Regions from separate parts of the Homo sapiens genome. Here region 2 is linked to region 1. Evidence: fine-mapped expression QTL. A gene starts in region 1. The other region holds a variant in brackets. All regions are shown on one strand. Distances are between the middles of the regions.

Evidence for each region. PIP is the estimated chance that this variant, and not a neighbour inherited with it, causes the effect.
Region 2: its variant is fine-mapped to the expression of CDADC1 in adrenal gland (GTEx, PIP above 0.99). The same link has a PIP of 0.9 or more in thyroid.

Annotation. Positions count from the first base shown.
Region 1 is chr13:49,241,018-49,253,664 of GRCh38, forward strand. It overlaps CDADC1 (cytidine and dCMP deaminase domain containing 1), which reads left to right and starts at 6,908. Exons shown (of 10, transcript NM_030911.4): 1 at 6,908-7,102; 2 at 7,854-7,948. The coding sequence starts at 7,021. LOC105370203 (a long non-coding RNA gene) reads right to left here and starts at 6,823. Exons shown (of 2, transcript NR_135318.1): 1 at 6,618-6,823. RefSeq lists enhancers at 6,769-7,331, 6,801-7,030.
Region 2 is chr13:49,285,691-49,298,337 of GRCh38, forward strand. CDADC1 (cytidine and dCMP deaminase domain containing 1) reads left to right here. Exons shown (of 10, transcript NM_030911.4): 9 at 532-592; 10 at 5,994-7,795. The coding sequence ends at 6,067. Among named protein-coding and RNA genes, the nearest start is that of CDADC1, 44 kb to the left of the region's middle. The variant C/A (reference allele first, on the strand shown) is at 7,436.

The DNA.
Region 1 (12,647 bases):
GCTGATTCAGAAATACCTGAACCCAGGTGGCCCTACCTGACAGTCCAGAGGTGCCACACAAACAGGGACCCAAAATGAGCTTGGACATTGACTGTGCTGCCCAGGCCCCTCTGCCCACCCCCTCTCAGGCAGGCTTTTGGTAGAGAGTTTGGGAGAACAAGGGAAAGTGGGCTTGCCAGTCCTTCCCACCTCAGGGGAGCACCATTTCCAGGGCTGCCTGAACATTCTTACTCTGCAGCACATTAATCTACGTGGCACCAAGTTTATTTTTCTGAGAAGATTATTTGGGACAATATATGGAAAATCTGAGAAGTCATTTCTCTTTGGCAGCACTGCCCTCCATAACAAAGCACATATTCCTGAAGGGCATCTGGATTTTGTTTCAGGTTTCTTTTTGCTTCCTCAGGGTTTAAGTGCTGCCAGGAATGGCCTTCTAAGAATTGCTTAGCAAACCTTAATCTCCAGACTCAGGGTGGTGGGGATAATCACATTTTTTGCCCGAAATGACCAAATTGAAACCATCCCCACAGGGTTGACAAGAATGGCATGCTGGGTTCTGGACAGAAATATAGTTATAATTAAGAATGAATCAGCCGGGCGCGGTGGCTCACGCCTGTAATCCTAGCACTTTGGGAGGCCAAGGCCGGCAGAGTGCCTGAGCTCAGGAGTTCGAGACCAGCCTAGGCAACACGGTGAAACCCCATCTCTGCTAAAATACAAAAGAAATTAGCTGGGCATGGCAGCATGTGCCTGTAGTCCCAGCTACTCGGGAGGCTGAGGCAGGAGAAATGCTTGAACCTGGGAGGCAGAGGTTGCAGTGAGCCGAGATCGTGCCACTGCACTCCAGCCTGGGGCGACAGAGCAAGACTCCGTATCTACAAAAAAAAAAAGAACTAATCAGACAGGCACGGTAGCTCACACGTCTAATCCCAGCACTTTGGGAGGCCAAGGTGGGTGGATCGCTTGAGTTCAGGAGTTCGAGACCAGCCTGGCCAACACGGTAAAACCTGGTCTCTACTAAAAATACAAAAATTAGCCAGGCTTGGTGGCATGTGTCTGTAATCCTTGCTATTCAGGAGGCAGAGGCATGAGAATCACTTGAACCTAGGAGGCAGAGGTTGCATTGAGCCAGTATTGTGCCACTACACTCCAGCCTACCTGGGCAACAGAATGAGACTCTGTCTTAAAAAAAAAAAAAAAAAGAACTAATCAGGCCACAATTCAGCACACTTCCTTGTTGCCAAAAGTCACTAGATCCTGACCATTTGCATCCCCATTGTTCCTAAAGATAGGATTTCTGACATTAAGATTATAATGATGGAGACAGGAGGCAGAGAAATTCTAGGCAGACAGGGGCAGGTCCCTGGCAAAGTCCCATCCTCAAGCCAAAAAGCCTGAGACTGCAGCCCAAAGTGAGAACTTACATCCCTGTTCTCCCGCTCAAATGTTGCCTTTTCCAAAACCACCCATGGCCCGCCCTGCCCCCTATCCTGTGCTTATAAAAACCCCAGACTCAGCCGGCAAAAAGGAGAAGCAGCTGGACATCAGAGACTATGGCTCAACGTCTGAGAGAAGTGGCTTGACTTCAGAGAGACAGCTTGACAGCATAACTTCAGAGAAGAATCTGGCCAGAGACAGCCGGACTTCAGGGGAAGATTACCTTCCCACCCCATCCCCTTTTCAGCTCCCCTTCCTGCTGAGGGCCACTTTTATCAGCGATAAAATCCTGTTTTTACCATCTTTCAATTCCTTCGTCCAAACTCATTTCTCCTGGATGCCAAACAAGAGCCTAGGAGCCACAAGTGCAGATGCAAAAGGCTGTCACACTGGCCCTTTGCCCTCACTGGTGGAAGACAGCTCCCTCACATGAAAAGGCAGAGGGAGGCTCTGCAGAGCTGCTAACACTTAAGCTGTCTGCAAATGGCAGAGCTAAAAGACCACTGTAACACTCCCTCTGGGGCTTCAGGGGTTGCAGGAACCCCACCAGATACTGCCTTGGGGGCATGCATGGAGTTTGCTCCTGCTGGTGCTCAAAAGTGCTCACCTGGCTCCTGCACCTGCTCACCTGTGTGCTCCCTCCCATAAGGGGTGGAGAGCAGTGAGTCCGAATGAGTGGAGTTCACTCCTGCTGGTGACGAAGTGGCCAGCTGATTCCAGTGGTTGTGTACTCCAGTTCCTGCCTTATTTGCTCATGCGCTCCCTCCCGCAAGGAGTTGAGAGCTGTGGGCTGAGTAAATGGGGCACCCCTATTGCGAGTCCTGCAAAGCGGTCAGGGAAATATCCTACTTCAATAAGACTGTTTAAAAATGGATTTGCATCCCTGTTGTTCCTATAGAGATGATCTCTGACGGAATCATAAGGCTTTTGTTTAAGGATTGCTTAAGATGTTCTCAGATCCAAATTTCAGCGACCAGTTTGGAGACCCTCACAGAAGAACGGGATGAGCATAAGAACACAGCTTCTTCATCTCCCTGTCCCATGACTTCACCCTGTGCTCTTCGACCAGTGAACACTCTCCACACTTGGGCCCACTCCAAAACCCTAAAGACTGTAGCCCCAAACTCCTCAGACAGATGGATTTAAGATTCCCTCCCATCTCCTCCTTTGGTGACCCTATAGGTAAATGCTTTATCTGCTAAAACCCAGTGTCTCTGGCACTGGTCATGGAGTGCCTTCTCACAAGAGCAAAATTGAGTGTAAGGTACATTTTCTTCCACAAGCCAGGTATTCCATAAGCACCACCAGCATCAGCAGATCCAGCTACAGATTCAGTGACTATGATCAACTCCACAGACCATCAGCTTGCTTTGTTGAGAGGATTCTGTCCTAATAAACACACTGCTAAGACTAACATTCCCAATCCACAGGACCTAGAATAAAAGAAAATTCAGGCTACTTAGAGAATAGGTAAATGAAAGATGAAAAAGGGAGGGACAATCAACAGTATTGAGCACCTGTGCTTTGCCAAGCACCATACTACTTGGGATCATGTAGCCCTTCATGAAAATTTGTGATAAATGTTTTACCATCATCCTTTCCTTCCTTCTTTCCCTGGGCTATTCCTTCCTCCCTTCCTTCTTCCCTGAGTAAGTCAGTCAAAAAGGCATTTGATAACCTCCCCTCCCCTCCCCTTCAAGGGAGAAGAGGCTATTACAGCAGAGGAAGAGGAAGGGGCTGGAAAGCCAAAGAAGCAACTAGCATGCTAGGAAGGTGAGTCACATACAGGGGAACTGAGGGTGGAAAAAAGAAAGAAAGGACAGAGGCTGCTCCTTTAGCCTGGATCCCAGAGCCAATTCACAGGAGCAGCAGCATGTAACATGAGTAAAAATTAACCTTTGTGGGGGCAAGCCACTGAGATTTCATGGTCATTTGTGTGAAAGGAAAATGAATCTTGGGGCCCCAAAATCACTAAGCTAAAGGGAAAAGTCAAGCTGGGAACTGCTTAGGACAAACCTGACTCCCTTCTATTCAAGTCATCCCTCTGCTCACTGAGATAAATGTATATCTGATTGCCTCCTTTAGAAAGGGTAATCAGAAGCTCAAAAGAATGCTAGCATTTGTTTCTTATCTACCTAAGACCTGGAAGCCCCCTCCCAACTTCGAGATGTCCCACCTTTCCAGACCAAACCAATGTTCATCTTACATATGTTGATGGATGTTTCATATCTCCCTAAAATGTACAAAACCAAGCTGTGCTCTGACCACCTTGGGCACATGTCGTCAAGACCTCCTGAGGCTGTCACAGGCGCATATCCTTAACTTTGGCAAAATAAACTTTCTAAATTAACTGAGACCCGTCTTAGATTTTGGGGGTTCACATTTGTTACCCACAGCAAGCCGGGTCTAAGCCAACTGATACAGTAACTGGTAAATAACTTCTGTTCTTAGAGTGTGAATACAGCTTGTCTCTCTCATATCAAAGCCCATGGTCCTTCCACTTGATATATAGAATTGTTTATTGATTTAAAAACCATTTTATTGATTAAACTGGCCTTTGTAGAACTCAGCTGCTCTGAGCTTGTCCACTTCTCAGCACTTAGGGAAAATTTCATTTTATAATCCTTTTTAGTCCTCTTATTCCTCTGCAGCAGAACAATTATTCCACCAATACTGTGGAAAAGTTAGCCTAGTCTGAAAAATATTTCAGCTACAAATACCTAAAAATGCAGGATAAAATATGGCTGAGCTAGCAAGAAAGTAAGAGAAATAGTCCAAGTATTTAAACTGCTCTGAAATACTAAAGGACTGAAAATGGAATGAGACCAGGAGTCCAAAGAGAGGTTAATGAGCAATAAAGCTAATGATTGTTTGAAGGGCAGGGCAGATCTAGACTGCTGGGGATTAAAGATACACACACAAACACACATATAACATATATAGGTGTGTATGTATATATATATACATATAGTTATTTTGAGAGTTTAAGACTTAAAGAAAGTTGCAAAAATAATACAGAGTTCCTGTGTTACCCTTCACCCAGCTTCTGCAATAATAATGTCTTACCTATTCACAGCACTTTGGTAAAAGCAGGAAACTGATACTGGTAAAATACTGTTAATACAGGTATAGATCTTATTTGTGTTTTACTAGTTTTGAATGTACCACTTTGCATTTTTGGTGTATAGCTCTATGAATTTTATCACATGTATAGATATGAGTAACTGTCAACACAAAGAAACTCTGTCGTGTTACCTCTTAACAGTCAGACCCTTGTCCCAACCATAACATTTGGCAATCATGGATTTGTTCTTCAATGCTATAATTTTTCTTTGGCTATGAGAATGGTATCTAGATGGAATCATACAGTATACAACACTTTAAGACTGGCTTTTAAAAACTCACCACAATGCCCTTGAGATTCATTCAAGTTGTACGTATCAATAGCTCATTACTTTTTATGGCTGAGTAGTGTCCCATGGCATGGATATACTCCAGTTTGCTTTCTATTCATTCACTAAGGACTGTTTGGCTTGTTTACAGTTTTTTTGTTTTTTTGTTTTTGAGATGGAGTCTCACTCTGTCGCCCAGGCTGGAGTGCAGTGGTGCAATCTTGGCTCACTGCAACCTCTGCCTCCCGGGTTCAAGTGATTCTCCTGCCTAAGCCTCCTGAGTAGGTGGGACTACAGGTACATGCCACCACGCCTGGCTAATTTTTTGTATTTTTAGTAGAGACGGGGTTTCGCCATGTTGCCCAGGCTGATCTCAAACTCCTGACCTCATGATCCGCCCGCCTTGGCCTCCCAAAGTGCTGGGATTACAGGTGTGAGCCACCATGCCTGGCCTGTTTTCAGTTTTTGACTATTAAAAATAAAGCCACCATGACATTCATGTACAGAGTTTTGTTTGAACATAAGTTTTGGTTTGTCTAGGATAAATACCCAGGAGTGTGATTGCTGGGTGATATGATAAGCATATGTGCAACTTTATAAGAAACTGTCAAACTGTTTTCTAGAGTGGTTATGCCATTTTATAGTCCTACCAGCAATGTTTGAGAGATCCGGTTGCTCTGCATCCTCACTAGCATTTAGTGCTGTCAGTACTTGTTATTTTAGCCATTTAAATAGGTGTGTAGTAGAATCTCATTGTGGTTTTAATATACATTTCCCTAATGGCCAATGACACTGAACACTGTTTTACATGTTTATTTGCCATCTGTATATCTTCTTTGGTGAAATGACTATTCAAGTCTTTGATCCATTTTCTAACTGGACTGTTTACTTACTCTGAGTTTATATGGTTCTTTATATATTCTGGATATGAGTCCTTTGTTGGATACATGCTTTGCAAATATTTTCTCCTAGTCCATGGCCTGTCTTTAAACCTTAGTGTTAATTGCCATGAAGGCACTGTCAACAAAGTCTACACTTCAGGAAAGGTGCAGAATGGAGTTCTCTGGATATAGTCAAATCACCTGAAGAGCTTTACCCTCAGAACAGGCGAACTAGAAAAAATTCTACAAGCCAAAGAAATAAATAGCAAGCTGAAAGATAGATCTGAAGAAATTAGCCAGAATGTGGCTCAGAGAAACAAAATGATGCAATATTTTAAAAATAATAATTTAGAACCTCAGAAGGTTTAACCTATGCCTAATAGGAATTCCAGGAGGAGAGTCTAGAGTAATGTTGTCCAATACAGTAGTAGCCAATAGCCACATGTCACTACTTAAAATGTAAATTAATTAAAACTAAATGAAGTTAAAAATGCAGTTCCTTGGTTGTACTGGCCACATTTCAGATGCTCAATAGCCACATGTGGCTGGTGGCTACCATATTGGACAGTGCAGATATAGAATACTACAGGAAATCCTACTGGACAGTGCTGATCTAGGTCATAAAACAAGTCTGAACAAATTTCAAAGAACTGGTATGATACAGATGTTTTGTGGAAATAAACTAGACATTAGAAATTAAAAACAAAATAACTCCTACTGCCTCCTCTCACCTTTTTCCCCATTACAATTCCACCTCTTAATGTCTTCATGTTCTTGATGAGAAGCAGAACGTCCCTACTGTGTTCCATGGCACCAAGTTCCCCAGAACCCGCCAGTCTCTGATGACAGAACATCCTGGACCGCCCAGCTCCACACCCCAACCCAAGAAGTTCTCTAAAACACTGACCATGACAGCCTGGGGTAGGTTTCCACTTTAACATTCTGACCAAAATTCTCAACTCGATGCAGTCAGAGTCTGCGCAACCTGGGACCTCGAGCCAAGAAATCCTCAAGTGACCTTACTTGGCAAAACCAACAAAACAACCAAATACAGGTCTCAAGCGATTTACAGCTCGGTGCTTAACTCGGTCACCGGCCGAGGGGCAGCCCTCTGGCGCCAAAGCCCCGCCTCTCTATGACGTCACACGAGGAGCCCTGAAGTGGCGGTCAAGCTTGAGGCGTCATCTGGCTGCGCCTAGTGGGCCGTTGCCTTACAGTTGCTGAGAGGAGGCGAGAGGCGGGGGCGCTAGGGCCGAGATCATGTCTGACTGGGAGAGGTTTCCTTGGCAGCAGAGGACGCTAGGTTTGGGATGAAAGAAGCTGGGCAGATGCAAAATCTGGAGAGCGCGAGGGCCGGGCGGTCAGTCAGCACCCAGACTGGCAGCATGACCGGTGAGTGTCCGGGACCCTGCTCCCGCCACCCTACCTTTCGCTCTGCCCTGTGCGTCTCCCGTCATTGAACTCCAGATTCCTTGTCTGAGCCTCTTTGCCTCCCCTGCTGCTTTTGGATGTCTCCTGCCCGCCCTCTGCGTGTCCCCTCCGCGGTCGCCAGGACCAATCGGCTCGGTCGCACTGGCTTTTGAAGTCTCGCTTTTTACCCCTGTTAGCTACTTCTCACAGGACCTAGAGCTGGGGCCTCTGAGGTCAAAGAGCCTGAACATTTCCAAACGGCGCTTTTGCCTTGATTTCCAAATTAACCGCACGTGACGCTTTCCTGTATTTCGACTGCTTTACCGTCGAAGGTCAGCGCATTTTTCGGGTTGTGTTCTAATCGCTTTCCTTTTAGCAACGCCCCATCACAGTCCAAAGAAAAGCTTGCACCACGACGACGTCAGATGCGAAGACTTTTCACAGCTTGCTTTGGGTTGTCCCCCTCAGCTATGTGTATTAGCTGTACCGTTTTTTCCTGCAGGGTGAGGGCTGGAGAAAGAAGGCTCAACTTTTTAAGTGGAGAAGGAGGTAGCCACGACTAAGGCTGAAGCGTCTACTGCTAAGATACCTCTGACTCTCTTGTCCCCTATCTTTTTCTGTGCCTCTTGCGAAAGCAGCTGGGCTTAGGCTGCAGCACCTAAGTGGCATTGAGATTGGCTCCCTTTTTCACCATTAGTAACAAAGTTTAAAGTGTTTGTCGTCTCTTTTGTAGGTCAGATACCAAGGCTTTCTAAAGTCAACCTTTTCACTCTGCTCAGCCTCTGGATGGAGCTCTTTCCAGCAGAAGCCCAGCGGCAAAAATCTCAGGTATAATTTGTTTCATAGTTTTTCCCCTTAGAAAAGCAGTGGTTTAAAATCTGAGTTTATTGCTCCAGTTTCTGTCATACCTAAAACCAAACTTAACAAGGCTTAAGATTTAAAAAATATCTTTATTGATTAACATGACACTTTATAATTCCCAGCCGTAATAAGTCATCTTCCATTCTAAAAATACTTTCTGAGAATACCATGTTTATCGGGTACTAATGGTATTCATATGTCAGTTCGGCTAATAAGATTATTGTCTATACCACATAATTTCCCCCAATTATATATACTGTTGGTGTTTTATCTAGGTAGTTTACTCCTCTGCCACAGAAATATATAAATTGCCTGGAGATAGAGACCATGTCTTATTTTACCTAGCATATACCCTTTAGAGTCTAGCATTATATGAGTGCTAATTGATTAATGTTGGATGGAAGTAGTCTCTTTTTGGATCTTGAAAGACAGGATCAAAACAGATTAGAAATGGGCTGTGTGCAGTGGCTCACGCCTGTAATCCTAGCACTTTGTGAGGCTGAGGTGGGTGGATCACCTGAGGTCAGGAGTTCAAAACCAGCCTGGGCAACATAGTGAAACCCCATCTCTATTAAACATACAAAAATTAGCCAGGAGTGGTGGTATCCGCCTGTAGTCCCAGTTACGCGGGAGGCTGAGGCATGAGAATCGCTTGAACGAATCGTTGGAGGTTACAGTGAGCTGAGATTGCACCACTGCACTCCAGCCTGGGTGACAGAGCAAGACTCCATCTCAAAAAAAAAATCAGAAATGTATAGTAAGAATAATCATAAAAGCCAATATATTGGAATTGGAAGTATAAACATCCTGCGTCTTTTCTTTCTCCTACCCTTGGGGCAACAAGGGGCTAGGTTCTCATTTTCCTCCATGCTTGGAATGGCATGATGCTAGGTTCTCATCATTTCTGTTTGATAATTTTGGAAGCTTAGGGTGTTGGCATTAATTTTTATAGGGGGCCACGGCCATTGGAAAATAGTATTAGGTTAAGTTGAGCATTTAAGACTTTTTTTAAAACAGAGGTAAAATGAGGGGGGTGGGGCAGAAAATTACACATGGCTTCTCACCACTCTAACAACATTACTGTTAATATTTTGGTGCTTCCAATCTTAAGCATGAGGTTTTTTATTTTTACTCTTACAAAGTTGTAGTTATATTCTGCATGTACTCGCTGAGGTTTCCAACTTGCCCATAATTCTGCTGAAAGGTTGCTTTAGATTTTCCAGAGAAAGACTATAAATCCTTAAATTCCCACAGTACTCTTAGGAGACCACCTACTCTTTTCATTTTACTGTGGATGAGGTTTTGTGCTTGGCACTGGAGACACAAAGCAGAAAAAACATGGTCTTTATTTTCTAATGAGTAGAAACACTAGGCATTTAAACAATTAAAACAGAATTGGTGGAGTGAGTACATAGTATAAGCAGAGATGTTGGCAAGACTGGGAGCCAGGCTCTATATGGGGAAGTGAAGGAAGGATTCACAGAGAAGGTCGTATTTGCACTGAGACATGAAGGATTAGTGGACTTTTGCCCAAGCCAAGGAACTCTACATGGAAAAGCTTGGAGCAATGAGAGAATTTGTGGTCCTCAGGCCAGAAAGTGAAGTTAGGTAGAGGGAAGAGACTGGAAAGGAGCTTGACAATGTAGACAGGAATCATATCATAAAAAGCATTGTATGCCTTGCAAAGGAGTTTAGATTTTATCTTATCAATATAGGAATTGCATTGAGGAATTTTAACAGGATGTGAGGATATTCGCTTCTCATAATAAAATGATATCTCTTGGTGTAGTTTCCTCCCCCAATTCCTATGTGAAGTGTTTTATAGATAGTAAAACATTATTTAAAATATTATACATCGTTATTCCATATTTCTCACCCTCATCCCCCCACTCTGGCTCTACATGTTATTAACGGCTGAGAAAGCTCTTCATTTCCTTCATTAATTTTGAAATTCCTTTATTCCTTCTACTTGTTAATAGTTTAGTATTATTTTATGAAAGTAGATTTCCAAGCTGTTAGGGATTTTATGTAGTGTTGTGTTTTTTTTGTTTTGTTTTGTTTTGTTTTCAGATAAAATTTATTTTGAAGAGCCAGATTAGAAACAAATATTTAGAGGTTTAAGACTTTTAGGCCGGGTGCAGTGGCTCATGCCTGTAATCCCAGCACTTTGGGAGGCCGAGGCAGGCAGATCACAAGGTCAAGAGATCGAGACCATCTTGGCCAACATGGTGAAACCCCGTCTCTGCCAAAAATACAAAAAGTAGCTGGGCGTGGTGGTGCGTGCCTGTAGTCCCAGCTACTTAGGAGGCTGAGGCAGGAGAAACACTTGAACCCAGGAGGCAGAGATTGCATTGAGCTGAGATCACGCCACTGCACTCCAGCCTGGCGACAGAAAAAAAAAGAAAAAAAAAAGAAAAAAAAACGTATAAAAACTGGACATATTAGAGATTGAATACAAATTTTGAAAAGGCGTTCTTTTTTTTGTAAATATCCAGATGTGATCTCGTTTTAGTTCTGTTTTTTTATATACACACCACATCCTGTGCTGAAATTAAGTTTTTTTTTTCAACAGGCACAAGTTGTATTTAATTAGTGAGAAATGACATTTATGTTTCTATTAGGAAGGAATTGATTGGCCAACTAATTGTTGAAGTTTATTTGCAAATAATACACACCCTACTGTTTCCTCATACTATATAGAGAAAGCTGTGGATCTGAGAAAACTGAGATGAAGCTTTCAGTTAGCATTTTGTTAAAAAAAATACTACCAAGGAAATTTCAAAACTATATTAGCAACAAAATTTTATACAACTTTATATCATGTTTAACAAAAGATCAAGGTTATGACTCTCATTTTCTCCCAAGCCAACAACTCTTAAGTTTTCCTGGCATCTCATTCCTTCATCTGGTGGGCACCATGGAAGTTTTCTAAATGAAAATAAATAAGTCTTTTGTTTCAGATATTTTATTTGGGATCTTATTTAGAAATCTGACTCATACGCATGTCTATTTAAGGCTTTTAAATGGAAAGTTATAACACATAGAAATGAGTACAGAAGGCATCAAAACAAAGAACATCCATGTCTTCAGAAAGCCAGGCAACCTGGAACTAGGATTGACTTGGCTATATGAAAGGTTATCACTCTTAGCTCCTGGTCCTGGAGCATGCCCAGCTCCTATTCACTGCATTGGTGTCTTTCCAGCTGTGCTCCCATACCCATGTGTCCTAGGACTACAACCCTCTCACCATGGTCTTGGGTAGGCCTTTACTTCTGTTCTTACCTACAGGGCTTGGGACTCCAAGGCACTTGGGGAGGGAGAGCCTCAGGATTACTCTGGCAGTGATCTGGGTGAAAGAGGCTTTTGCATGTTAACTTGGGAACTTGACTATCATTTTTAACATTGTTTATATGAGAAAAATGTGTTTTAAATTCCGAAAAGGGAGATTTACCAAGTATTTAGAACATGATTGTAGGTTGTCAATTACTTGTATATTTAATGTCAATAAAGCAGAAGTATATAATTTCATTAGTTCTTCTGATATCATGGCCATTGCAAAAAAGCAAGACCAATGATAGTGTGGGGGAAGAATACAGAATGAAAGGGAGCATATTGTACTCCACTTTTATAGTGTTATTTATTGTACAAACATTATCATTGAAACTGAATTTATAGCTGCAACATTTTTAAAAACTATTTTTTTCTCTTGGATTTCCTTTTTGTACTAGTTAATATCCACATAATTTTGCAGGTAGTTGCAGTCATAGCAGGAACACAATTTTGTATTTGACAGTTTTGGTACTGTTACAGGGTTGATAAGTTATTAATTTTAAATTATACAGTAAGAATACATCTAAATTTCATATGCATGTAGTATATGCTGCCATTGTGTTTATACTTGTGGAAATATTAAATTTCTCAAAATGTTGCCCAATTTTGTGCCTAATATTTCTTTACCATTTACTATAGTATATTTTTTCCAGTATTATTTGCACATGGTATTCTTAGAGTTGAGTACAAACTTTTTCCAATTAAGAGAAAAAAAGTCTTCTTTAAGCTAAAGTAATAAGATTGTTTCACTTAAATTCTTTAGTCTGCTTTTGTTGTACAGAGTAAATCACAGAAATACCAAGATGCAATTAGACATGTAATTGTATTGGAAATACTGCTTTTGATACTTTACCAACATTTGTCTTACTAAAAGTATTTTTATGAGTTACCAAAGTAATATATGTTTGTTATTTTTAAAATGGACAGAAGAAAAATTTTATCATAATTCCACCTCCTAGAGACTAATTACTTTTTAAAAATTGTTTCTCAGTCTTTTTTCTCTTACTTTCTTTACTTACATGAGATCATTTAACTCTGGATCCTACCCTTTTCACTTAACATAAGAAAATACTTATGCTGTAATGCTAGTATAAACATTGGAGCAGCACCTTAGTCTAGTAATTTAGAGTAGCCAGTGGTTTTACAGCCAGCCTGCCTGGGTTCAGACTCTGGCTCCGCCTCTTACTAGTTGTATAACTTTGGGTAACTCTACCTCTCTGTGTCAGCTTCCTCATCTGTAAAATGAAATGTTACTAGTATATACTACATGAGGCTTTTATGAGAAATGAATGAGTTAATATTTGTAAAGGTCTTAGTGCCTGGCACATGTTAGGTA
Region 2 (12,647 bases), 45 kb after region 1:
TCTTCAACTTCTCTAAGAGTATTGATTCGGATCCCAGAAGTTATATCATTCAGGATCACTCAGTGTGGCGTTATTAGGGCTTTGTTAATTTGAACATGCTAACTTCTTTTTCTTCTATTTTTTTAATTTTTTTTTTTTTTCAAGATGGAGGCTTGCTCTGTCACCCAGGCTGAAGTGCAGTGGCACCATCTCAGCTCACTGCAACCTCCACCTCCCAGGTTCAAGCAATTCTCTTACCTCAGCCTCCCAAGTAGCTAGGACTACAGGCGCGTGCCACCACGCCCAGCTAATTTTTGTATTTTTATTAAAGACGGAGTTTCACCATGTTGGCCAGGTTGGTCTCAAACTCCTTAACTCAGGTAATCCACCTACCTTGGCCTCCCAAAGTGCTGGGATTACAGGTGTGACCCACTATGCCCAGCCATTTTTCTTCCATTTTTAAGAAGTTGTTTTGATATTTAAAATCAATGTGCTGGAATGCTATGTATTAAATCCTCTTTAAACAAGTAAAATGTTTGTGCACTCTTACAGTGGCAGCTGAATCCATCAGGAGCTTATGGTCTTGAACAAAATGAGCCTGAAAGGAGAGAAAGTAAGTATTTATGTATTGAGGTGAACTTTGTTGCTGAGGAGAAAGGATATACAGTGAATTTTAATGATCAGGTGATGAAAATTGTGTTAATAGATGGAGCATATTATTTTTGAAGGTTAGATTTTTGCCATTCAATTTGTTCATAAATATTTGTGGGTCTACCATATGCTAGGTGCTATGGAAAGTGCCGATTAATAATTACTCCTATAGAATCTACAGGTTAATACAAATAATTATGCACAAATTGACTTTATAAATTAAATGCATATGAAACAGTAAACAGCAATGCTCTTCTATAACAAAACAAAAGCTTATTGGGGAGTGAGAAAGGAAAAATATGTATAATTAGTACAGATGGATTGGGACCAAATGATGAGGATATATACATTCTTCTAGAGTAAACCCACATTTGCCCAGATTGGAAATGTTCTGGTAACTTGAATAATCTGATTAACTAAGAATCATCACAGCTACCATAATGAATTACTAGTCTTTAAAGCTTTATTATTCGTATACTACTACAGATATTTTGAATGTAATATAATCTTTGAGAAGTCTTACAATTCTTTAGGCACATAATTTTAGATATGAGTGCTATATAATATTATTCTAAAATAGTAACTATAGGCCAGGTGTGGTCACTCACGCCTATAATCCCAGCACTTTGGGAGGCCAAGGCAGGGGGATCACTTGAAATCAGGAGTTCGAGATCAGCTTGGCCAACATGGTGAAACCTCGTCTCCACTAAAAATACAAAAAATAGCCAGGTATCATGGCACATGCCTGTAATCCCAGCTACTTGGGAGTTTGAGGCAGGAGAATCACTTGAATCCAGGAGGTGGAGTTTGCAGTGAGCCGAGATAGCGCCACTGCACTCCAGCCTGGGCGACAGGGCAAAACTCTGTCTCTAAAAATAAAAATAAAACAGTAACTATATTATCGAATTATTTGGATTTGAAGTAAATGGAAGTTTTCTGTAAGTTTTCTTGATAATAACAATTTTTTAACCTTGAAAAATCAAGAAGTATAAAGGTCTTAGAATAATTTTTCTGTGAATATATTGATTTTCAGTGTTCTGAATTAGCTTTATTTGATTCAAATAGAAAATGTATTGTTTGCAATTTGGAAAAAAGTACATATCCACTGCATCTTTCTTTTTAAAAATTTATTAGCAAAAAAGGCTGTATCTATCTATCTATCTATCTATCTATCTATCTATCTATCTATCGGTCTGTCTCTCTGTCTATCTATACATCTGATTAAATAATGTACACTCAATGACAGTGTTTGAAGGGGCCAATGAATAATTTCCTATGTTAGGGAAAGGATACAAAAAGCACGAATCATAAAAAGGTTAATTTATCTATGCTACAATGAAGAATATCTGTTCATTAAAATATATTACTAGGCCAGGTGCAGTGGCTCACACCTGTAATCCCAGTGCTTTGGAAGGCTGAGGTGGGTGAATTGCTTGAGCCCAGGAGTTTGAAACCAGGCTAGGCAACATGGCAAAACCCTCTCTCTACAAAAAATACAAAAATTAGCCAATTGTGGTGGCACATGCCTGTGGTCCCAGCTACTCAGGAGGCTGAGGTGGAAGGATCTCTTAAGCATGAAGAGGTTGAGGCTGCAGTGATCCATGCTTGTACCACTCTACTCCAACCTTGGCAACAGAGTGAGACCCTGCCTTAAAAAAAAAAAAAAAAAAGATATCACTACAAGAGTGCAAAGGCAAGCCATGGAATATGAGAAGATACTTGCCACTTATAATCAACAAAGGGCTTGTATCTAGGATTTATTATTCCTAGATTACTAAGGAAAAGGAAGACATGCTGTGGTTAAAGCCCCAAGATTGGAAGGAGGGGACAAAAGGAAGGCTTCTGGTTTGCTGGCAATGTTTTATTTATTGACCCAGATGATGGTTACATATGTTTGCTTTGTGACAGTTCAACTGAACAGTTAAGTTTATGTTTATGCATTTTTGAACAAGTGTTTGATCTCAGTAAGCAATACCCCATTTCCTTTTTAATTATATGATAGTTTTACTGATATGTAATTCATCTATCATAAATTTGCTTCTTTAGTAGATTCACGAAGTTGTACAGGCATCACTACAACATAATTTCAGAACATTTTCATTATCTGAGAAAGAAGTCTCATGCCTATTTGCAGTCACTCCCCATTCTTCACTCCCCCTAGCCCTAGGCAACCACTCTTTCAGTTTTTATGGATTAGTCTATTCTGGCCATTTCATATAAATGGAATCATACAGTATGTAATTCCTTTCCAATTTTTGATTCAGTTGAGAAATAGACACCAGAATCAACAGATGAAAGTTACAACACCAGCTTTGTTGTTAGACTGGGGCTTGACTTTTGGGTAAATCAGTCTGTCTAACTCAGAGGGGGACTTGCTGCTGGATACTCTCTCAGTGCCAGTAGCAGGGACAAACAGAGAAGGAAGGCAGGCAGTGTGACTGACAACTCTCAAGTGCCCTTCCACTCCATGCAAATGGAACCCAGGTAACCCATAACAAGCATTCTTTTTAAAGAGTCATGGAGCTTTCAAGAAAATAAGAGAAATATTCTCCTAAGAACAAAATAGAGATAAGAAGGCATTTTGCTAGAATCTGAGGAGCAATAGTAAGCGAACACAATAGCCAGAGCTATCCTGGGGACAAATGTCCATATAAGCTGGGATCTGAGATCAGGTCTGGGTCTGCTGCAAGGTGAGTGAACTGAACTTAGTTCACCCAATCAACACATGAAAAGATGATTAAACTTATTAGTAGTCAGAGAAATGCAAATTAACATTGCACGGAAGTAGCTTTTTTTTTGCTTTTTTTTTTTTTTTTTTTTTTTTTTATGACGGAGTCTCACTCTGTCGCCCAGTCTGGAGTGCAGTGGCGTGATCCTGGCTCACTGCAACCTCCACCTCCCAGGTTCAAGAGATTCTCCTGCCTTAGCCTCCCAAGTATCTGGGATTACAGGCATGCACCACCATGCCCAGCTAATTTTGTATTTTTAGTAGAGACGAGGTTTCACCACGTTGGCTAGGCTAGTCTCAAACTCTGGACCTCAGGTGATCTGCCCGCCTTGGCCTCCGAAAGTGCTGGGATTACCGGCATGAGCCACCACGCCTGGCCTGAAATAGCATTTTTTATAAGCGTATGCCCTAGAGAAACTCTTGCATATTGTATAAGAGTCAGAGAGACAAAGAATTTGTTGCTATATTGTTTTTAAAAGCAAAAACTGGAAATAACACAAATGTTTGTTTTGGGTGGTTAGATAAAAATATTATGGTGTATTCCCACAATGGACTACCATATAGCAGTGAAAACAAATGAACTAGAGCTACATTCTTCAACATGGATGAATCTTAGAAATATAAATGTTGAATTTAACAAAGCAAACTACAGAATTATGATACCATTTCTGTATAAAGTTCAAAAAGACATACCATATATTGGTTAAATGTGGTAGGCCAGGCATGGTGCTCACACCTATAATCCCAGCATATTGGGAGACTGAAGCGGGCCAATTGCTTGAGCCCAGGAGTTCAAGACCAGCCTGGGCATCACAGCAAAACTCCATCTCTACAAAAGATACAAAAAATTAGTTTGGCATGGTGGCCTGTGCCTGTAGTCCCAGCTACCGCAGAGGCTGACATAGGAGGATCACCTGAGCCCAGGAGGTTGAGGATGCAGTGAGCTGAGATCACACCACTGCACTCCAGCCTGGGTAACAGACTGAGACAGACCCTGTCTCAAAAAATATATAAATAAATAAATAAAATATACTTTAATATATAGTATATACAGTAAAGTTATTGTTAAGAAGCAATCGATTGATAAACACAAAAATCAAGATAGGAGTTGCCTCTGAGTGGGGTGAAAGGGGATGGGACGAGAGAGGGAGCGCACGGGAATTGATAATGTTCTAGTTGTTGGATTCGGCAGTATGTTTTGTTTTTTTTCCATCTCCCCCCAACACACATAATGTAGTTTTATTCAGTTTTAAACAAACTGTAACTCTTTTGGGGCAGTAAGTTCATGAGTGTTCATTTTATTGTTAGGCTTTAGAACTCCCATCTGTATTATGTATGTATTATTATATATTACATAATACATTATATATAGAGAGAGAGAATGTTTCAAATATTACATGATATGATGAGAACAAGAAAGAGAGAGGGGTGGCTTTCCAGATCTACCTCTGGAAGGCAAGTCTGAGCCCTGGCCCAGGTGTCCTTAGGACAAGGAAACAGCAGGGCAGAACATACAGGCTCAGGGCAGGAAATCCCTCAAAAGATGGGAAGAAAGGGGCAGAAAGAAGCTTTTGCAGGTGATAGATATGTTCATTGTCTTGACTGTGGGGATAGTTTCATGAATGTGTACTTATGTCAGAAATCATGAAACTGGACTAAGCAAAATGGCTCCTTCCTGTGATCCCATCATTTTGGGAGGCTGAGGTGGGAGGATTGCTTGAGGCCAAGAGTTCAAGACCAGTTTGGGTAACAGACTGAGAACCCCATCTCTACAAATATTACAAATCAAAAAGTAAATTAAAAAAATTCATCAAGCTATACACTTTATGTTTAGTTTATTGCATACTTTAAACATGTATCATTTATTGTACAAATAAAGCTATTAAACACAAAAGCCAGGAAGAGGTTGAAGCCATACTCTTTTCCCAGCCTGCCCAGTCAGATAAGTCCGTCTTCCTTCCAGTCCCCAGATTCTCCCTACCCCACACACAGTCCCCTTCTCCCTTAGGAGGTACATTTTATTTCTTCCAGTCTAGTAATAGGACGTCCCCCCACCAAAAACATAAAACAAAAAGTTTTATGAATTACTTGCCGTACACTGTTGAGTGAATTCAGTTTTTGGTTTTTTTTTTTTTTGAGACAGGGTCTCGCTGTGTCACCCAGGCTGGAATGCAGTGGCACAGTCATGGCTCACTGCAGACTTGGCCTCTCTGGGCTCAAACAGTCCTCCCACCTCAGGCTCCTGAGTAGCTGGGATTACAGGTGTGCGCCACAACACCTGTTTAAAAAAAAAAAATTTTTTTTGTAGAGATGGGGTCTCCCTATGCTGCCCAAGCTGGTCTTGAACTCTTGGGATCAAGTTATCCTCCCTCCTCAGCCTCCAAAAGTGTTAAAATTACAGACGTGAGCCATTGCACCCGGCCAATGTGAATCCAGTTTTTAAAAGCCAGATTCTGTATTGCCTGAGAGTAAGTTATCTAGATTGGATTCTCTACAATTGAGAATTTGAAGATAAAATAAAGTGAAAGTTCCTTTAACTTAAGCATTGTTTTGCTCTTACAACATGTAAGGCTGAAACAAGTGCCCATGGGTTTGAAATGAAGCTGTCCTGACCTAGCGTTATTCTCAATGCTAGATGGTGTGTTGAGACCTGTCCCACAGAAGGAAGAGCAGCACCAGGACAAGAAGCTGCGCCTCGGAATCCACTAAGAAGGCCTGTCTACACTGCAGGGGAACCTCAAGAACTTTTCATTGCACTTCTAAAATTCAGCCTTGTTCATTCAGAAAATAAGGATGGATTTTGTGAATAATTGAAAAGATTTTTTAAGGAAGCTAATTTATTTCTAGGATACAAATGGTGTTAATAAGAATATTTGTCTTTTAGATTTATGTGTGGGTTTTCCATAATGTAGTAGTGTGTTATTTTATTACACGAAATGAGGGAGCAATAACTTCAACCAATGTAATCACCAACAGGGACTGATTTCTATTTATCTTGACTTTATATTAGCCAATTTGAAAGGGTCTGCTTCACAAGAGGTCATGCCTCTGCAGGGAATCACACACCTTTTGAGAAATATTAATTCTTTTGAATTACAAGAGTGACAGTTAGTAAACTGCTCCAGGGAAATAAGTGTCATCTTTTAAGAGTCAGTGTATAGCAAACCAAAAGATCACATTTATACCCAAAGCTTTCTAGTAATCAGAATTTACTTAATTAGAATTGACTCATAAAAATAAAGTTAGTGGACTTTGTCTCCATTTTTAAAGTATATTTTGTAAATGTTAATTCTGTGGTCCTGTTTATCACAGACTTTGGGTAGCAATAGGAAGAGAGTGTTATTCTGAGACAGTGTCGCTGCTTGATATCACTGACTCTTGAAATCACTAACAGTGAACCTCAAATTTGGTTATGATGTTAACAGAGAAGAAATATTTGAGTCTGGAATATTGAAACTAGCTTTCCTAGAATTCCATTAATAAATGCTGCTCCCCCATATAGTCTTCCCTTCTGTATAATTAACATAGGTTGTCTCATGGCTTTGATCTTCAAAAGGAAGAGCCTTTTAAAAACATTTGCCAACCTCAAGAATAAATACTGAAAGTCTTGAAAGTATGGTCATTTCAGCTATTCCAGATTGCTGTCTGTGATTTCTCACATTTTTATTTGCTGAGAAACATTCAGAAAATTATTCCAAAAATGAAGGTACATTTTCTGTTCTCTCCTAGGTTAGAGAGGGGTGGCCTGGGGTGCTTCATGAGAAATGTCTTCCTGGATCTGCGGTGGTCAGGTTTGCCTCTGCTTTTGTTCCCTGCCTTTCCGCCACATCACACGGCCTCACTGGGCTTCCTACCAGTTTCTCAGAATTACACGCACGACCATCCAAACATTGGCTCCATGCCAGGGCTGTGACTGCAGCCTGTGTAGGACCATGGGGAGTTCAGAGTCATCATACAAGGCAGCCAAGAACTGCCATAAACACTACACAGATGGAGGGCATGGGATAGGACAGGAGAGGAGGTGATGTACACTTAGAGGTAACTAAGGCTAGTTTGAAAACCGTGAATTAAGATATT[C/A]TTATCAGTATAAAAACACTGAGATTGCTTACCTCCCAAATTGCTTTATTGTATTAACTCTCATGCTTCAGCTCTTGGATTTGTTGTTTCTAACTAACATGTCATGTACACCAAACATTTTATAAATCAATCAGTAAATATTTTGTAAGACCCAAAATCCTGGCATATTGCCAGGTCTGTGGATTTGCCTGTTGGGTGTTGGGATGGGATATCAGAGGAAGAAGCATACAAGTGGGAAAAACTGTGATTAGAAAGGGAAAAATAGGCATTTCCACAGTACTATTAAGAGAGGCATGATAATGCCATTTTTTTTCTTCTGTACAACTGGTCAGATTTCAATAAATAATCATTGATGGTTTACTGTGTAGCCTCAGAAGGTGAAGTCTATGAGGGCAGGGAGGTGTGTGTGTGTGTGTGTGTGTACTTTTTAACTGCTGAACCCCAGTGTCTAGAACAGTACCTGGCACACAGTAGGCATTCCATAAATATTTGTTTATTGATTGAATGACTGCTAAACACTGCTAGACTGCGGGGATGAGATGTGTGAGAAATGCCTCCTGATCTTAAGACACTCACAGTCAAGTGGAAGATACAAGCATGGAATCAAGTAATTAAGAAAAATGATTCTCAGGCCAGGTGCCGTGGCTCACACCTGTAATCCCAGCACTTTGGGAGGCTGAGTGGGGTAGATCACTTGAGGTCAGGAGTTCAAGACCAGCCTGGTCAACATGGTAAAACCCCGTCTCTACTAAAAATACAAAAAAAAAAAAAAAAAAAAAAAGCTAGACATGGTATTGCATGCCTGTAATCCCAGCTATTTGGGAGACTGAAGCAGGAGAATCACATGAACCCAGGAGGCAGAGGTTGCAGTGAGCTGAGATCATGCCACTGCACTCCAGCCTGGACAACAGAGCGAGACTTAGTCTAAAAGAAAAGAAAAGAAAAAAATGTCTCTGGACCAGCAGACTATTTGTTAGAAGTGCATATTCTTAGGGTGCTCCCTAGGCTTACTGAATTAGAACCTCTCAGGGTGGGCCCAGCAAGCTGGGGTTTCACGACCTTGCGGGTGATTCTGGTGACCTTTAAGGCTGAGAACTGCCATTGTGGATGTAACTGTAGGAACAGTGGGGGCACACGAGGATTTACCAGCACTCTGGGGAGTCATGGAAAGGACCCTGTAGAGGCAGAGGTGATGAGGTGGGGCCTGAGGGGATCCAGGGGTTTGCCAGGTAAACAGTGGGAATGAGACAAATTTCTGGGAAAAAGTGATGGAGACAGACTGCTGAGCCACCCCAGGAGCCCGCCTGGGTTTGGAGAAGCTCTGTGGGGCACTTTTGACCCAGATCTATAAATTCCCAGTCTTCATCCCTTAGCCTGAGAAATCAGAACTTACACTTAAACAAAAAATACAATGTCTTTCTAAATTTCAAAGAATGGGAGGATGATGGTAAGTTCATAATTTGTAAAAAAAAAAAAAAAAAAAAAAAATAGCTCTGCCATTTGTTTACTGCCTAAGTGGCCACAGAATATGCTACTGTGAGGGGAGCTAAGTGTAAGCATTTGCCTGGCTTCCTTCATCCCAGTCATGCAGAACATACGCAGGTGTGTGTATTTTCATTGTATTGCTGCTGAAGCTTTTTCTTTCCTTTTTCAAGACAGGGTCTCACTCTGTTGCCCAGGCTGGAGTGCAGTGGTGCCTTCATAGCTCACTGCAGCCTTGACTGTTTTCTGTGCTCAAGCGGTCCTCCCCACCTCAGCCTCCCAAGTAGCTGGGACTACAGGCACGTGCCACCACGCCTGGCTAGTTTATTTTTTATTTATTTTTTGTAGAGACAGGGGTCTTGCTATGTTGCCCAGGCTGGTCTTGAACTCCTGGCCTCAAGCAATCCTCCTGCCTCTGCCTCCCAAAGTGCTGTGATTACAGGCATGAGCCACCGCGCCTGGCCAAGTTAGCTTTATTTCTGGGTCAATGAATGGTACCAACACTCTATAAACATGAACTCTATCTTTAGTGACACTATGATACATAAATGAGCTTATCGCCCCTGAATGTCTATATCTAAACCCACGTAACACTTGGGAAGGAGAAAGAAAGAAGTGAGCCCATCTTGGGACAGGAGCTCCTTTGGTGAGTGTAGCACAGAGTGATTTGTTAGGGAAAGCACATGTCTTTCCAGAAGGACATGAGCCAGAACTTTCCTGGAATACTTCCCACCACCCCATGATTCTCAGAAATTGGGGTCCAGGCCAGGATGAACGAGAAAGAAACCACAGTTCATCCCAGTGCTGACACCCGTACCCAGAGAGGCCCGGGCCGGGGATGTATCCCAAGGACAAAAGGTGGAGGGAGGAGGCTGGGGGGAGTTCACTTCCTGTGGAGTGAATGGAAACAGCCTGGCTCTGCCTAATGTGCATGAGGGGCTGGGGGTGGCTTGAACAGCTTGAAGTACCTTGTGTAGTGTGTGCGCACATTCACAATGTTAGAAAAAAACAAAAACAAGAGCTAAGCGAGAAGTCTGAAATACTGTGGTGTATGATGCTGTTGAGTTGCAAGAAATGGAAGCTCGTGAGCCGGGAGGCTTCTGTGTGGCAGATCGTAACTCCTGACCAACTTTGTTTCACCCATGATGATAACCAGCAGAGGTTCTCCAGGTTGTTTATTTTTGAACATGGTACAATTCATTAACAAATATTTGCCAGGGCTTAGCTTACCATGAGCCAGGCACTGTGAGGAGTGCAGTTACAGTGGTGAGGAAAACCAGACACAAACCCTGCCCTCGTGGAGCTTATCGTCTAGTTGGGGAGATGGACATACATCAGTATTCATGAAAATGAATGAAAGGTACACAGAAAAGAACTGGCCTCCCAACAAATACAGGGACATGTTTTTTCAGTTCTTCCACTTCACAGAGATCTGGTACTATTATAATGGCACCATGGGCTGCACTTAGTGGACCCAGAAAGTTCTACTGGTTTGGGTTTTTTAAAAGATATCCTACACGCTTAAGCAGGGAATCTTTTGGAAACCTCTGGAAGAACAATCATATTAAACATGCAAATAGGGCTGGGCACGGTGGCGCACACCAGTAATCCCAGCACTTTGGGAGGCTGAGGCAGGTGGATCATGAGGTCAGGGGTTTGAGACCAGCCTGGCCAACATGGTAAAACCCTGTCTCTACTAAAAATACAAAAAAAAAAAAAAAGAAAGAAAGAAACTAGCCAGGCATGGTGGCGTGGGCCTGTAATCCCAGCTACTCAGCAGGCTGAGGCATGAGAATCACTTGAATCCAGGAGGCGGAGGTTGCAGTGAGCCAATATCGTGTCACTGCACTTCAGCCTGGGCAAAAGAGCAAGACTATATAAAAAAAAAAAAAAAATTGGACCATGACCCTTAACCTCAAGATTCTGTGACTTGTCAGGGTGGAAAAAAATGTATGTAAATAAGTATAGATGTGATAAGCTTTAATAAAGAGCAGGGGAATTTAGAGAAACTGTACCAAGCATTAAATGTATTATTTTTAGTAACCAGAAATTCCTTCTATTGATGTAATTAAGATTTTATAGTGTTTGAGAGGCCAAGGCAGGAGGACCACTTGAAGCCAGGAGTTCAAGACCAGCCTGGGAAACATAGCAAGACCCTGTCTCTCCAAAAAGAAACTAAAAAATTAGCCAGTTGTGGTGGTGCACACCTGTAGTCCCAAGCTGCTAGAGAGGCTGAAGCGGGAGAATCACTTGAGCCTAGGAGTTCAAGGCTGCAGTGAGCTATGCTTGCACCACTGCACTCCAGCCTGGGTGACAGAGTGAGACACTGTTTCAAATAGAAAAAAAACTGCATATAGTACTTTACTCTCAGATATGAGTGTTTCTGTTGACCAGGAATTTTACCATTCCTGGTTCTCTGATGCGGAGGTGGCCTTGTGAAAGGACACAGTTTCTGCTGAGCTGAACACGCTTTAGTGTAATCTGATGAAGAACTTCTATGCTGGTTGCGGTATTGGTGGAAAGTGTTTTATTTTGCAGAAAAAGCACAAATTCCACAGAGGGCAACAGTTATCCATTCACTCCATAGCTATCTATTGCTGCATGACAGACTACCCCCTAAAACTTAGTGGCCCATGCCACTATTTTATTTTGCATGATTCTGTGAGCCAGGAATTTGGGCAAGATTCAGCAGAACAGCTCTACTCCCTGTGGCACTGGCTGGGGTCATGGACGGTTGTGTGCCACTGGTGGGTCAGTTGAGAGGGGGGCCCAGCCGGCACAGGGACAGTGAGGCTGGACCATCCAAGGGGCTTCTTTCAGGTTTCTGGTGCCTCAGCTTGGATGGCTGAAACAGCTGGCAGCTGGCCAGGGCTCTCCAGCAGGGTGGCCAGACCTCTATGAGGTGGCAAGGGCTCTGAAAGTGAATGCTCCACAAGGATGGGCCCAGTGTGTCCCCCTTGCATCATGCTGGCTCATGGATCACTGGCCAAGGCCAGTTTCGTGGCCACACCCAGAGTCCATGTGGAGGGGCCTGCACAGGACATGAAGCCAGGAGGTATAGTTCACAGGGGAACACAAAAGTAACGTTCACTGCAGGGACAGAGCAGATCACTGAAGGGAATGCCACTGGGAATCGAGCCCCATGTCCTGGCCCCTGAGCAGAGTTCTGTCCCCAAGACCATTACTCCTCATGGAACTTTTCACCTCCCTCACACTTACGGCAATGCTAACAGTCACTACACACGGTTCTGAGAACCTTCAAATTGAAGCCCTCATGATGTTTCCTAAGAAGTTGCAGTTGTCCAAATCCACAAACCCAGATTTTAGTTGGCAAGTCTGAGAGGTTCTGGGTAACTGTTTTGCTGCACAAACGTGGGTATTCCTGAAAGTTTAAAGATTCATCTTCAACATGCTAGGGAAAGCCACCATGATAGCTAGTCTAATAATGCCCAGACCATCCCCTCATTGATGAATGGAAGGCTCACATTTTAAGATGAATATGGGCCAGGGAGGTTTCACCTTTCTTGGCTGAGGTTGATGCCAAAGTGATAAACCTTGGTGCTTCCCGCCTCCCTGTTCCCTGGGGATGGGCCAGAATCAGATGCCATCAGGGACCCTGCAGGCAATTCTGAGAATTCCTTTTAAGAAGACACCTGCAGGAAGGGTGAACCGCTTTCTAGCCCTTCTGCAGCCAGCCACTCCCCCTGCCTTTTGATGACACAGGTTCTGC